Linked DNA regions of Homo sapiens. The protein of the gene in region 1 binds, or shares a complex with, the protein of each later gene. Each region holds a gene or a part of one and is shown in the gene's direction. Other genes may lie near its edges. The genes, in order: RBBP7, EZH2 and HDAC2.

Evidence for each region.
Region 2: RBBP7 (region 1) and EZH2 share a complex: the UniProt entries of both Homo sapiens proteins name them as parts of the PRC2/EED-EZH2 complex.
Region 3: RBBP7 (region 1) and HDAC2 share a complex: the UniProt entries of both Homo sapiens proteins name them as parts of the core histone deacetylase (HDAC) complex.

Annotation. Positions count from the first base shown.
Region 1 is NC_000023.11:16,849,733-16,853,479, reverse strand, and holds part of RBBP7 (histone-binding protein RBBP7), read left to right. Parts: intron 1-604; coding exon 605-731; intron 732-851; coding exon 852-929; coding exon of another isoform or gene 930-1,064; intron 1,065-1,357; coding exon 1,358-1,434; intron 1,435-3,747. UniProt on the Homo sapiens protein: Core histone-binding subunit that may target chromatin remodeling factors, histone acetyltransferases and histone deacetylases to their histone substrates in a manner that is regulated by nucleosomal DNA.
Region 2 is NC_000007.14:148,882,298-148,886,044, reverse strand, and holds the start of EZH2 (histone-lysine N-methyltransferase EZH2), read left to right. Parts: upstream 1-1,753; 5' UTR 1,754-1,881; exon of another isoform or gene 1,882-2,109; intron 2,110-2,559; exon of another isoform or gene 2,560-2,848; intron 2,849-3,747. UniProt on the Homo sapiens protein: Polycomb group (PcG) protein. Catalytic subunit of the PRC2/EED-EZH2 complex, which methylates 'Lys-9' (H3K9me) and 'Lys-27' (H3K27me) of histone H3, leading to transcriptional repression of the affected target gene.
Region 3 is NC_000006.12:113,969,072-113,972,818, reverse strand, and holds the start of HDAC2 (histone deacetylase 2), read left to right. Parts: upstream 1-1,670; 5' UTR 1,671-1,910; coding exon 1,911-1,962; intron 1,963-2,089; exon of another isoform or gene 2,090-2,339; intron 2,340-2,540; exon of another isoform or gene 2,541-3,118; intron 3,119-3,747. UniProt on the Homo sapiens protein: Histone deacetylase that catalyzes the deacetylation of lysine residues on the N-terminal part of the core histones (H2A, H2B, H3 and H4).

The DNA of each region.
Region 1 (3,747 bases):
AAATTTAAAAACAAAAAATTAGTTGGGTATGGTGGTGTGCACCTGTAGTCCTAGCTACTCAGGAGGCTGAAGTGGGAGGATCACTTATTATTTAGAAAAAAAGAAAACTAGGTATGGACATGTGAAGGAACATACTTGGTGTGGTGGTAAATATCAAAATTGAGATCCAGAGTGATGCCAGTTGGAGGTCGAGGAGGAAAATGATTTCATCAAGGTGTGGCCACAGGGCTTCATTCACTTATAATCTTATAAAGAAATACCTGAGGCAAATGTGACAAAATACTGGGCATTTGTCAAAACTAGTTTTAGGTATCAGATTGTGACATTATTCTCTACATAGTCTGTATTTTGTGTACACTTGAAATAGTTGGTAATTAAAATAGGAATCTAATTTAAAAAACAGGACTAACAGCCCTAGCTTGTTCTCTGTAGGTTTCGAATGTATCATTTAGTGGTCGAGGTCTGAATCACCAGCTGTGTGGTTGGTTTCTTCATGAAGGGGAGCACATAGTGGAGCTAGTTGTGGAGTGCAGTGACAGTGATGTGAGGCCGAATGTGAGTGTGTCATCCCTGGGTGCCGTGTGCCTTTACCTTTGTGTTTTAGATGGGACACCAGGTCCAATACCACCTCCAAGCCGAGTCACTTGGTGGATGCGCACACTGCCGAAGTCAACTGCCTCTCATTCAATCCCTACAGCGAATTTATTCTAGCCACCGGCTCTGCGGATAAGGTTTCGAAGTTTTTGCATTATTTGGTGTTTATAAAACCCAGTTCTCTTGTGCCTTAATCAGATATTTGAAAATTCTTAGGTAAAGCATAGAAATCATTTTCACTTGTTATTTTTCTTTAGACCGTAGCTTTATGGGATCTGCGTAACTTAAAATTAAAACTCCATACCTTCGAATCTCATAAAGATGAAATTTTCCAGGTATGTGACAGTTTTCTGGTGTCTGTATGTCAGGAAATGAAATCCAGGGATTCATCAGTTAAGCTATACCAGACTCGTGGGTCCACTATTGAAAAAAATGTCTTGTACGTGGTGTTACATGGAGATGCTCATAGGGTAAGGTACACCTTGTTGAAGAATTAAAAAGCTTCTGGGATGGTTATGGGGTCGAATAAATTTATTGAGATCCCAGGCTGAGTTCCTCAGTGCTGGGGAGTGCAGCCTTCCTGAGGACAGGATGGAGCTGAGCCCTTGCAGAGCACTTGAAAGTCGGGGACAAGAGAGTGAGGCCATCAGGCCAAGGATAAGATAATAGAGTGCAAGATGGGAAAATATCAGATTAGAACAACAGCCACAAACCTAGCAGCGGATGATTCTTTAAATACATTTTCAAAATTATCTATTACTAGGTCCACTGGTCTCCACATAATGAAACTATTCTGGCTTCAAGTGGTACTGACCGCCGCCTGAATGTGTGGGATTTAAGGTAACTTACAGTCCTGTGACAAGATACTGCATAAATGTGCCTATCTGGCAAGTTACATAGTCATTCATAAACTAGAAAAGCAATTTGGTAATCCCCCCTTCAAGAAACCTAATATTAAAGAAACTTCTAAGCATCTTCCTAAAGAGCCTTTGTTCTGTAAAATAGAAGTGAAGCAGCAAATGGACCATAAAATAAATTTCTCTAGTGTGAGTTTTGTCTCTTAATATTCAGGCATGAAGGTGTATGTGTCTGTTTTTGTTTTTGCATTCAAATGACTGTATTTAAAACACACTTGATATAGAGAAATCAAGATGTTAGCTGTTTTATGTCTCATTGGATCTCAGTACGTGTAGGCAGGACTGTTTTTTCTGGGTTTTTGTACCATTTACTTTGCTTTCAGTGATTCATTCTGCAGATGTGCACTCCTGCTGTGGGTTGTGTAACTGCTGGGGAGACCTTTGTGAAGGGGACAAGGACAGCCCAAGCTGTCAGAGAGCTTATGTTCTCTGGGGCCTCATTGTATAAAGAGTTTCTGCCAATTTTTAAAGTTCCTTTAGTTCAGACTTGCTGTTCTAAGAATTTTAGACTCCTTTACTTGTTCATCTGAGCCTTTAGAACTTAATAAAGTTGCTCAGTTACATACTCCTCCGTAAGATGTCATCTTAAGTTTAAATCATAAAATTACCAAAAAATAACTTATTTCCTGCTTGTATTAAATATATTGCTTTGAAGTGGACTGAATTTAGTACAGGTTGAATATCCCTTATCCAAAATACTTGGAATAAGAAGTGTTTGGGGTTTTGGAATTTTTAGGATTTTGGAATATTTGCATTATACTTTATTGGTTGAGCATCTCAAATCTGAACTGAAAGTCCAAATTCTTCTTCTTTTTCTTTTCTTTTCTTTTCTTTTTTTTTTTTTGGAGACTGAATCTTGCTCTGTCACGCAGGCTGGAGTGCAGTGGCGCAATCTTGGCTCACTGTAACCTCTGCCTCCCAGGTTCAAGCAGTTCTCATGCCTCAGCTTCCCGAGGAGGTGGGTCTACAGGTCTACAAGCACTGCCACAGCCACCATGCCCGGTTTTGTATTTTTTACTAAAAAAATAAATAAATAAAGGCAGAGCTTTGCCATATTGGCCAGGCTGGTCTCAGACTCCTGACCCCACGTGATTCTCCCGCCTTGGCCTCCCAAAGTGCTGGGATTACAGGCATGAGCCATTGCACTCGGTGTGAAAGTCCAAATTCTGAGTGTCACGTGGTGCTTAAAGTTTTGGATTTTGGAACATTTTGGATTTGGGATGCTCAACCTATATATTAAAACCAAGGCTGCCTTAATTATAGAGGCAGTAATCCTCAGTATATAGAAGAGACGCTGGAGAATAAAATGCTTGTATGTAAAACTTAAAATAGCTAATGTTCAGGGTTCTGATGGAGCAAACTCTTGCCGTGATAAATACTTGAAGATGTAGAAAACCTTTAAAGCAGACAGTTGGGGGCATTGTATTTGATTTAAAAACAATTTTAGTAGTAAAATAAAACCTAAATCAAAACTATAAAGAGGTTGTATGAAGCGTACAGCAAGGTTTGGAAGTCTGATGCCCTGGCAACTGAATTGCCCCTGAAGGTGCCAATAATTTGTGAGCATTGTGTGTAATTTCTTCTTAGAATTATTTCTTAGCTTGTTTAATATTAAAATTACATTAGATAGGGGGCCAGGCATGGCGGCTCATGTCTATAATCCCAGTACTTTGTGAGGCTGAAGCAGGAGGATCGCTTGAACCCAGGAGTTCGAGACCAACCTGGGCAACATAGACCCTGTCTCTACAAAAAATTGTAAAATTACATTAGATAAAATTTGGGATTAAAATGGTGAGTTTTAGCAACTATACTGACAGGTGGAAGATAAGTATTGTCTAGCAATCCCACAGGTTTGAGATTGTTTGGTTAGTTTTGTGGGAAGGAAAAAAATGTCTCACTTGGAGGGCTGGGTTTTGTTTTTTAGTAGTTGTTACTACTAAAGTCTTTGGGCTAGGTATAAGGACAGGGCTGATATTGATACATAAAGAGTGATTTCACTGTTGAGCACTGGCAAATTCTACAAATTGAAGTTTTTAAGAGAAAAACCATAAAAACATTTCCTTGGCTTACACATTTCTCAAAGTTTTATTGCCATATCTTTAGACAGATCTATAGTACTGATTTGTAATTATATTTTACTCCTGGGATGCAACAGGCTTTGAGTGAAGTATAGGGATTGCACATCAGTTTATGTGTAGATTTTTTTAACTATACATTTCACCTTTTAATTCTAAGG
Region 2 (3,747 bases), on another chromosome or scaffold:
ATATTTCTTCAGATTTTTACCCCAACAGTTCATAGGTGACCTTTTTTCAGTTTCCAGTATGAACTCTCAATATGGAATCTCAGTTTACATGACAATGGTATTTTACCCCATAGATACATCCTAGTAAAAATAAATTCGGAATACTCTTAACTGCATTGCCACATGAAGCAATAGGAGAGACTGTATCCTAAGCAGAATCCCTCTAATTCCTCTGGGTTGAGGTAGCTTGACCCCCCATAACCAAGATCAATTTTTTTTTTTTTTTTGAGATGGAGTCTCGCTCTGTCGCCCAGGCTGGAGTGCAGTGGCGTGATCTCGGCTCACTGCAAGCTCCGCCTCCCGGGTTCACGCCATTCTCCTGCCTCAGCCTCCCGAGTAGCTGGGACTACAGGCGCCCGCCACCACGCCCGGCTAATTTTTTGTATTTTTAGTAGAGACGGGGTTTCACCGTTATTAGCCAGGATGGTCTCGATCTCCTGACCTTATGATCCGCCCGCCTCGGCCTCCCAAAGTGCTGGGATTACAGGCGTGAGCCACCGCGCCTTGCAAATATCCTCACACTTTGCAGAGGCGGCAAGTGAACAGTGCTCATCTTGATAAAGGATTTTTAACACTGACACGTGCTTAGAACTACGAACAGTGGAAGGGTCTGAAATGGCAGCAATGTCGCCCTTTCACAGGTTTCTAGGGCGATAAGCACTGCAAGCTCGGCCAGCCAAAGTCCAGCGGTGGGGGAAAAAACGGCCAAGGCAGCAGCAGACATAATCAAACAGGGCCCGGGTCGGCGGCGGTGGCTCACGCCTGTAATCCCAGCACTTTGGGAGGCCGAGGCGGGCGGATCACCAGAAGTCGGGAGTTCGAGACCAGCCTGACCAAGACCCGTCTCTACTAAAAATAGAAAATTAGCCGGGCGTGGTGGCGCATGCCTGTAATCCAGCTACTCGGGAGGCTGAGGCATGAGAATCGCTTGAACCCGGAAGGCGGAGGTTGCGGTGAGTCGAGATCGCGCCATTGCACTCCAGCCTGGACAACCAGAGCGAAACTCCGTCTCAGGAGAAAAAAAAAAAAGTAGTAACGGGTCCGGCGGCAGCGCGCGGGCCGGGCGAGCGTCTCCCGGCAAACGCGGCGCCACAGCTGAGCCGACCTCCGGGGCCCGCGCCCTCCCCTCCCCGGGCACCACTAGGAGCGGCCAGCCCGGGCCTCGGCTCCGCGCGCGGGGAAACGAGCGCGGCGGTTAAAACCGTTACCACCCCCGAGTTTTGAACTGGTTCAAACTTGGCTTCCAGCACCCGCCCCGCCCCTCCCCCGCCCGGGAACTCTGCGGCGCCGGTTCCCGCCAAGAGCCGCCGGCGCTTCGTCCCGCCCTTCGGCCGGTTCCCGCCACCTATCCTCCCCGCCTCCCGTCCGCGGCGGGCTCCGGGCCCCCGCGATGTCTCCCGGTCCCCGCGTGCCTGCACACCGCCTTCCTGAGAGGCGCCGTGTGTTCAGCGAAAGAACAAAGAGACGGCGGCGGCGCTTCCACACGGCCAGTGGCGTCCCTTACAGCGAACCCCGCCGCCGCCCGCGCGCGCACGCGCTGCCAGTGCCCGCCCGCCCACGAGCCCTGAGCGCACTCTGCGTGGGGCTGGCTCGGCGCCTCCGAGCCCGGCGGGCCCTGTGATTGGACGGGCGCCCGCCTCGCGTCCCGCCAATCGGGGCGGCGCTTGATTGGGCTGGGGGGGCCAAATAAAAGCGATGGCGATTGGGCTGCCGCGTTTGGCGCTCGGTCCGGTCGCGTCCGACACCCGGTGGGACTCAGAAGGCAGTGGAGCCCCGGCGGCGGCGGCGGCGGCGCGCGGGGGCGACGCGCGGGAACAACGCGAGTCGGCGCGCGGGACGAAGGTAACGCGCCGCTGCGGGCGGCCCGGCCGGCGGGGCTCCGGGAGTGCGAACCGGGCGGCGGCGGCGGCGCCAGGACCTCCCCGCCACTGCTGTGCCGGTCCCGGGTATCGCCGAGCGGGGCTCACCGGGGCGCCGCGTTTGTAGGCGTGCGGGGGGTGGAGGGTGAGGGGAGAGCCCCCCTCCCCGGAAGGAGCTGTGAGCTTCGGGCTGGCCCGCGGGACCCTGCGAGTGAGGCAGCGCACACCCCTGGAGCTGCGGGGCGGGGGGCGTGTGGGGGGCTCCTTTCCCGGTGCTTGTCCTGGCCGGGGCGCCGGGGCCGGGGTCGGGGCGTTCCGGTGCCCGGTCCAGGGTGGCAGCTCGAGCCTCAAGTCTCCTTTGTGTGGCGCGGCCGCGGCGGGAGCGCCCGGGTGGGACGGGACAGACACAAGTTGGTGGGACCCAGCCGCCGAGTCCGCACTCAGACAAAGGACGGACTGTGTCTCCGGAGGGCTCGGCGCGAGGGGAAGGGGCATGACACCCGGGCCCGCCGGCGGGCGGGAGAGGGGCGTGGGGAGGCGCGGGCCGCTGCCGGGGTGGGCAGGGCTCGGCCCTCGCCTCGCGCACGCCCCCGGTCCCGGGCGCGCCGACCCCGGGCTGGGGCCGCGGCGCTCGCGGGACGACGTTCGCGGCGGGGAACTCGGAGTAGCTTCGCCTCTGACGTTTCCCCACGACGCACCCCGAAATCCCCCTGAGCTCCGGCGGTCGCGGGCTGCCCTCGCCGCCTGGTCTGGCTTTATGCTAAGTTTGAGGGAAGAGTCGAGCTGCTCTGCTCTCTATTGATTGTGTTTCTGGAGGGCGTCCTGTTGAATTCCCACTTCATTGTGTACATCCCCTTCCGTTCCCCCCAAAAATCTGTGCCACAGGGTTACTTTTTGAAAGCGGGAGGAATCGAGAAGCACGATCTTTTGGAAAACTTGGTGAACGCCTAGTGAGTTGCCACTTTCTAAAGAATCGTAATCCTTAAACATTACAAGCTGTTTTGGCCAACTTGTGTGATACATCTGAGAATGGCGACAGGTGCTAACGAAATCAACTGTCATTCAGCCAGATTATTCCCCAAATCCCGACGGGTTGAATGAGGATGAGGTGGTAGAAGTAGGTGATCAAAATAGAATGGCTATGACAAATGTGTGTTTAGATTATACGGTTAGCAGTTTCTTATTAATTGGTCTCGTTTTCTGTGAACAATAGCTTTGGTGATTCAGAAAAGACTGCATGGAGAAATGTTTGTTGCCTAAGAAATTTAACGTGTGCTGTCCACAGTTAAACTTCCTTTATCACACAGGATCTGTAACATTTAAATTCATTTGGAAATAAAAATGTGTCTTTGCTATTTACTTAAAGGCTTGCTTTTTAGGGTTCAAGCAAGTTATTATTAGTTTAATTTTGTGGCGTTTTGATGTCATCATAAAACAGCATTTAATAAACCTTTGAAAAACACGAATGCTGTCACAATTGAATGTAGTTTATACTTTTAGGGGTTTTGGAGTTTATTTTCTATTACTCTTCATAAGCATTAGCAACTAATTCATGTTTAGGAATACTGTACAAGTGTGTAATCCTAACTTGTTTATTTGTAATTTTATTTGCAGGAAAACAAGTATTTAAGATATATTTTAATTTTCTATTCATGGTCTCTAAAGTTAGGAATAGGTAGGATTCTAGTCATAGATATAAAGCGTCTTGTTCTCTCTTTTCGGAGGTGTGTTGGGTGATGTAATATTTAAGGTTTCCCGGAAACAGGAACACTGCATCTTAAATTCTCGTTTTTGTGGAAAGTGAATATATTCCAAGAAAACAAGTTAGAAAAACATAGGCGTTCTTCTG
Region 3 (3,747 bases), on another chromosome or scaffold:
GAGAAACTATTACATGCAAGATAAACCTGGTCCCTTCATTTATGACACTCCATTCATAGTGGGACATTCAGACGAGTTGTGGGCAACTGCAACATGGTTAAGTGTTGAGCTACAGCATACAACGTACATGGCATGGAGAACAGTCTTGGCGGGAGAGGGGTCAGGGAAGTCTTCCCAAAAGAAACAAAGTGTCATTTCAGACTTCATTGTGTTGGCCCTGGGGAAGAACATTCACTTCTACTAAATTCACTTATTCTGTTCTCAGAATCTTCCAAGTTGATTTTGTACTTGATAGAGCACAACTTAGAAGGTCAATTAACTTTACCTCTAGGCCAGTGTTTCACTCACCGTAATTTCTCTAGCAACTTCATCAGTCACCTGGGGTCTTGTTAAAAATACAGAGGAGGGGGCGGAGGGAGGGCAGGGGCCACCCTGGACTTAACTTTTTCTAAATCTCTTGGGGGTGAGGTTGGGGAAAATTGCTGCTTTAAGCATGAACACTTTCGGGATTTTGAAGTCAAACAGCAAATTAAAAGGGGTATTTTTGGTAGTGGCTCTTAAATTCCAGCATCAATACAGCCTTTTTTTTTTTTTAATAGGGGTGTATTTGGGGGGTAGGGATAGCAATTTTATATAACTGGGATTGGGTGCTATAAAACAGGCTGTTAGCCTCCAGCCCTCACCTGCAAGGTGGCTGGCTTAAGGTAGGTACTTGATAAATGTGGATTTATTTAACAGAGGAACACTTGTATTCATAACCTCCAAGAGTTTCGAAAGTCTTTCTGCTCCAATCTTCCAGTGTCTAGCCAGCAGCATTGCTGCAGAGTGGAACAGCTAGGGTGCGTGGAGTTTGCAGAATGAGTTCAAACCTCCAGACTTATCAGTTAGCAGTAAGAACAAGTTCCTTAATCTGCCTCCACCTATAAAGAAGGAGTACAATTGCCACTTACCTCCTAGAGTTGTTGAGAGTCTTAAATGAGATTAAATATTATAAATAGATTATCAATGGAATATATTATAAATGCAAGTGCTTAGAACTGTACCTTATAAATGAGCTCCACAGATGCTTATTAAAACCCGAGCGGTGCCCTCTCCCCTTAACATCCGTAATAGGCCCCCTTACACCTCATACCCATTACGAGTCAAAATAATAATAATAATAATAAATAAGTGAACAAACGACAAACGAGAAAACTAGGCTACCAGGCACTGGGGCGATGGGCCACAGCCCGGCGGGGTAGTGGGCCCGGAAGGGGCGCGGGAGTGGGCTCTCCCCGCCGGGCTCGCGGCACGTGGTCGGCTTGGGCGGGAGCTTCGCGACAGTGGGGGAGGGGAGCAGCGTGGGACGCCGAGGAGGGGTCCAGACCGCCAAGGCTACGAGGCGCCGACTGCGCAGGCTCGGGGACAGGCGCAACCACTGCGCGCAGACCTGAGGGGGAGAACGTCCACCCGGCTGCACGCTCCCTGGATCTACTTGCGCAGCGAAAGCTTGTCTTCTTCCTCATTTTAACACTGTGTATGGCGCCGCCTTGCGCAGGTTGTTCACCCTAACAGGGCCTCTAACCTCGAGCCCGAAACGGCCTCCTTCTCCAGCCGTGCCCCTTCCTCCCCCGTGGAGGCCGCAGTGGATGCGCTCACCTCCCTGCGGCCTCCTGAGGTGGTTTGGTGGCCCCCTCCTCGCGAGTTGGTGCCGCTGCCACCTCCGATTCCGAGCTTTCGGCACCTCTGCCGGGTGGTACCGAGCCTTCCCGGCGCCCCCTCCTCTCCTCCCACCGGCCTGCCCTTCCCCGCGGGACTATCGCCCCCACGTTTCCCTCAGCCCTTTTCTCTCCCGGCCGAGCCGCGGCGGCAGCAGCAGCAGCAGCAGCAGCAGGAGGAGGAGCCCGGTGGCGGCGGTGGCCGGGGAGCCCATGGCGTACAGTCAAGGAGGCGGCAAAAAAAAAGTCTGCTACTACTACGACGGTGAGCGGCCGGGCCGGTGTCGGGGTGGGCGCGCGGGGCCGGGCGCTGGGTTCCGCGGCTGCCGTCGCGAGTGGGCGCCGGGGCTGAGGGGTGGGAAGGAGGAGGGACCGACATTTGGCCGCATCTTAACCCGTTCCCGGCCCGGCACAGTTAGAACGAGACCCTCTTCCTGGCGCAGCCCCCGCGGTTCCTGCGGGCGGGAATCAGGGGGCCCGCCCGTCTTGTCTCCTGCCTCTCCCCCTTCGGCCGTGCAGTCCGCAGCCTCGAAGGTGGCCGCCGCTGGGGACGGCGCCGGCCTACCCCGCCTTGGTGGTGGCGGCGGCGAAGGGGGCGGCCCATTCTCTCCCTTCTCCCGCCCACCATTCGTGGCAACGCAGGTTTGGGGTGCCCCGCGTCGGCCTCCTACCCCCTCGACCCGTCCCCCGCGAGGCAAAATTTCTATCCCGGCCTTGACTCTACACAAAGCCCCGCGGCCGCGAGAGCTCCGCCCCTCCCGTCCCCTTCCCTCCTCCTCGCCTGCTCGCCTCCCCTACCCTGCGTTCGGTCTGGCCGGAGCGTCTTCTCCTTCCTCGGCTTACCCTTTCCCCGGACCCCTCCTCCCGGTGGGCGCTGGAGAGTAGTTACTGAGGGTGGGGGCTCAGGTCGCGTGTGGCTTTATCACACCCATGTTTTGCGTGGGCTCCAACCCTCTCCTTTGTTCGCTGGGTTCTTTGAGCGCGTCTTTCTCAGGATTCAAATGGAAGGGCTTCACTTCCTCAATAATAGTTCGGGTTTTCCAGTTTCAGGCAGAAAGACTTCGTAGGAAATAAGAGGTGGTAGGGAGATGTGGAACTGCTACTGCTTGTGTTGTAGATCAGACTCCATGGGTCCTGGCTTGCCTCAGAGAGGTGGTTACCACCCACTTCTTTGTTGCTCTTTGTTCGATCAGGAAATAGACCCTGCTTTGGGGATTTAGAGAGCATTGGTATCTTGCAAAGGCTGTTCCTAGGTGGTGGGGAATCCTGGTATGGGAAAACTTTGAGAAGTGGGAGAAGTGCAGAAGTACTAAATATTCTAATGAGGTAAATTTGAGGTCACCGTGTAGTGAATTATAAAAGTCAGATAATTTAATTATCTTAAGCATTCTATAATTTGGAGTATGAGCAGTAACATTAAATCTTCGAATCCTGTTTCCTGTGTTTTCTTGCTCAATGGAGTAGTAACCTGTTATACAGATTTCACAAAGGCTTGGTAAATAGTTTATAGTAGGTTACTCTTGAGAGAAGGGATTCCAAAATTTAACAGAGAATCTATCCTAGGCTCCTTCTCCTGAAAGTCCTGTCTGATTTGTAGGAAGCAATACAAATTTTGGAAGCTGTTTCCTACATGTGGTGTATTGTAAATCACAAAATTTTAGAGAAGTAAGACCCCAGAGCACCAGCTCAGAATAAATCTACTTTAACTTGTAAATGACCGTACTGTCTCTTTTTAGTTAAAAAGGATTAATCTTTTAATGACTGATACATATAAAATAACCACCTGTGTCATTTGGGGAAAATCTGAAATCTTACAGAACAAATCTAAATTGATCTGCGATAGCTAGGACAGAATAATAACAGCCCTACTTTTAAAAATGATTTTTCAGAGGACTAGATATGCATTATATAAGTTGATTTGAAATTATGCCATCGTGGAGGGGTGGAGATGGAAATACATTTTAATTTCAACATGATTTACATTGCATATTTTGGGTTATTCTTGCCCTGCATTCCCTGATCAAATTGGAAAGGAAGTAACCCTGCGTAT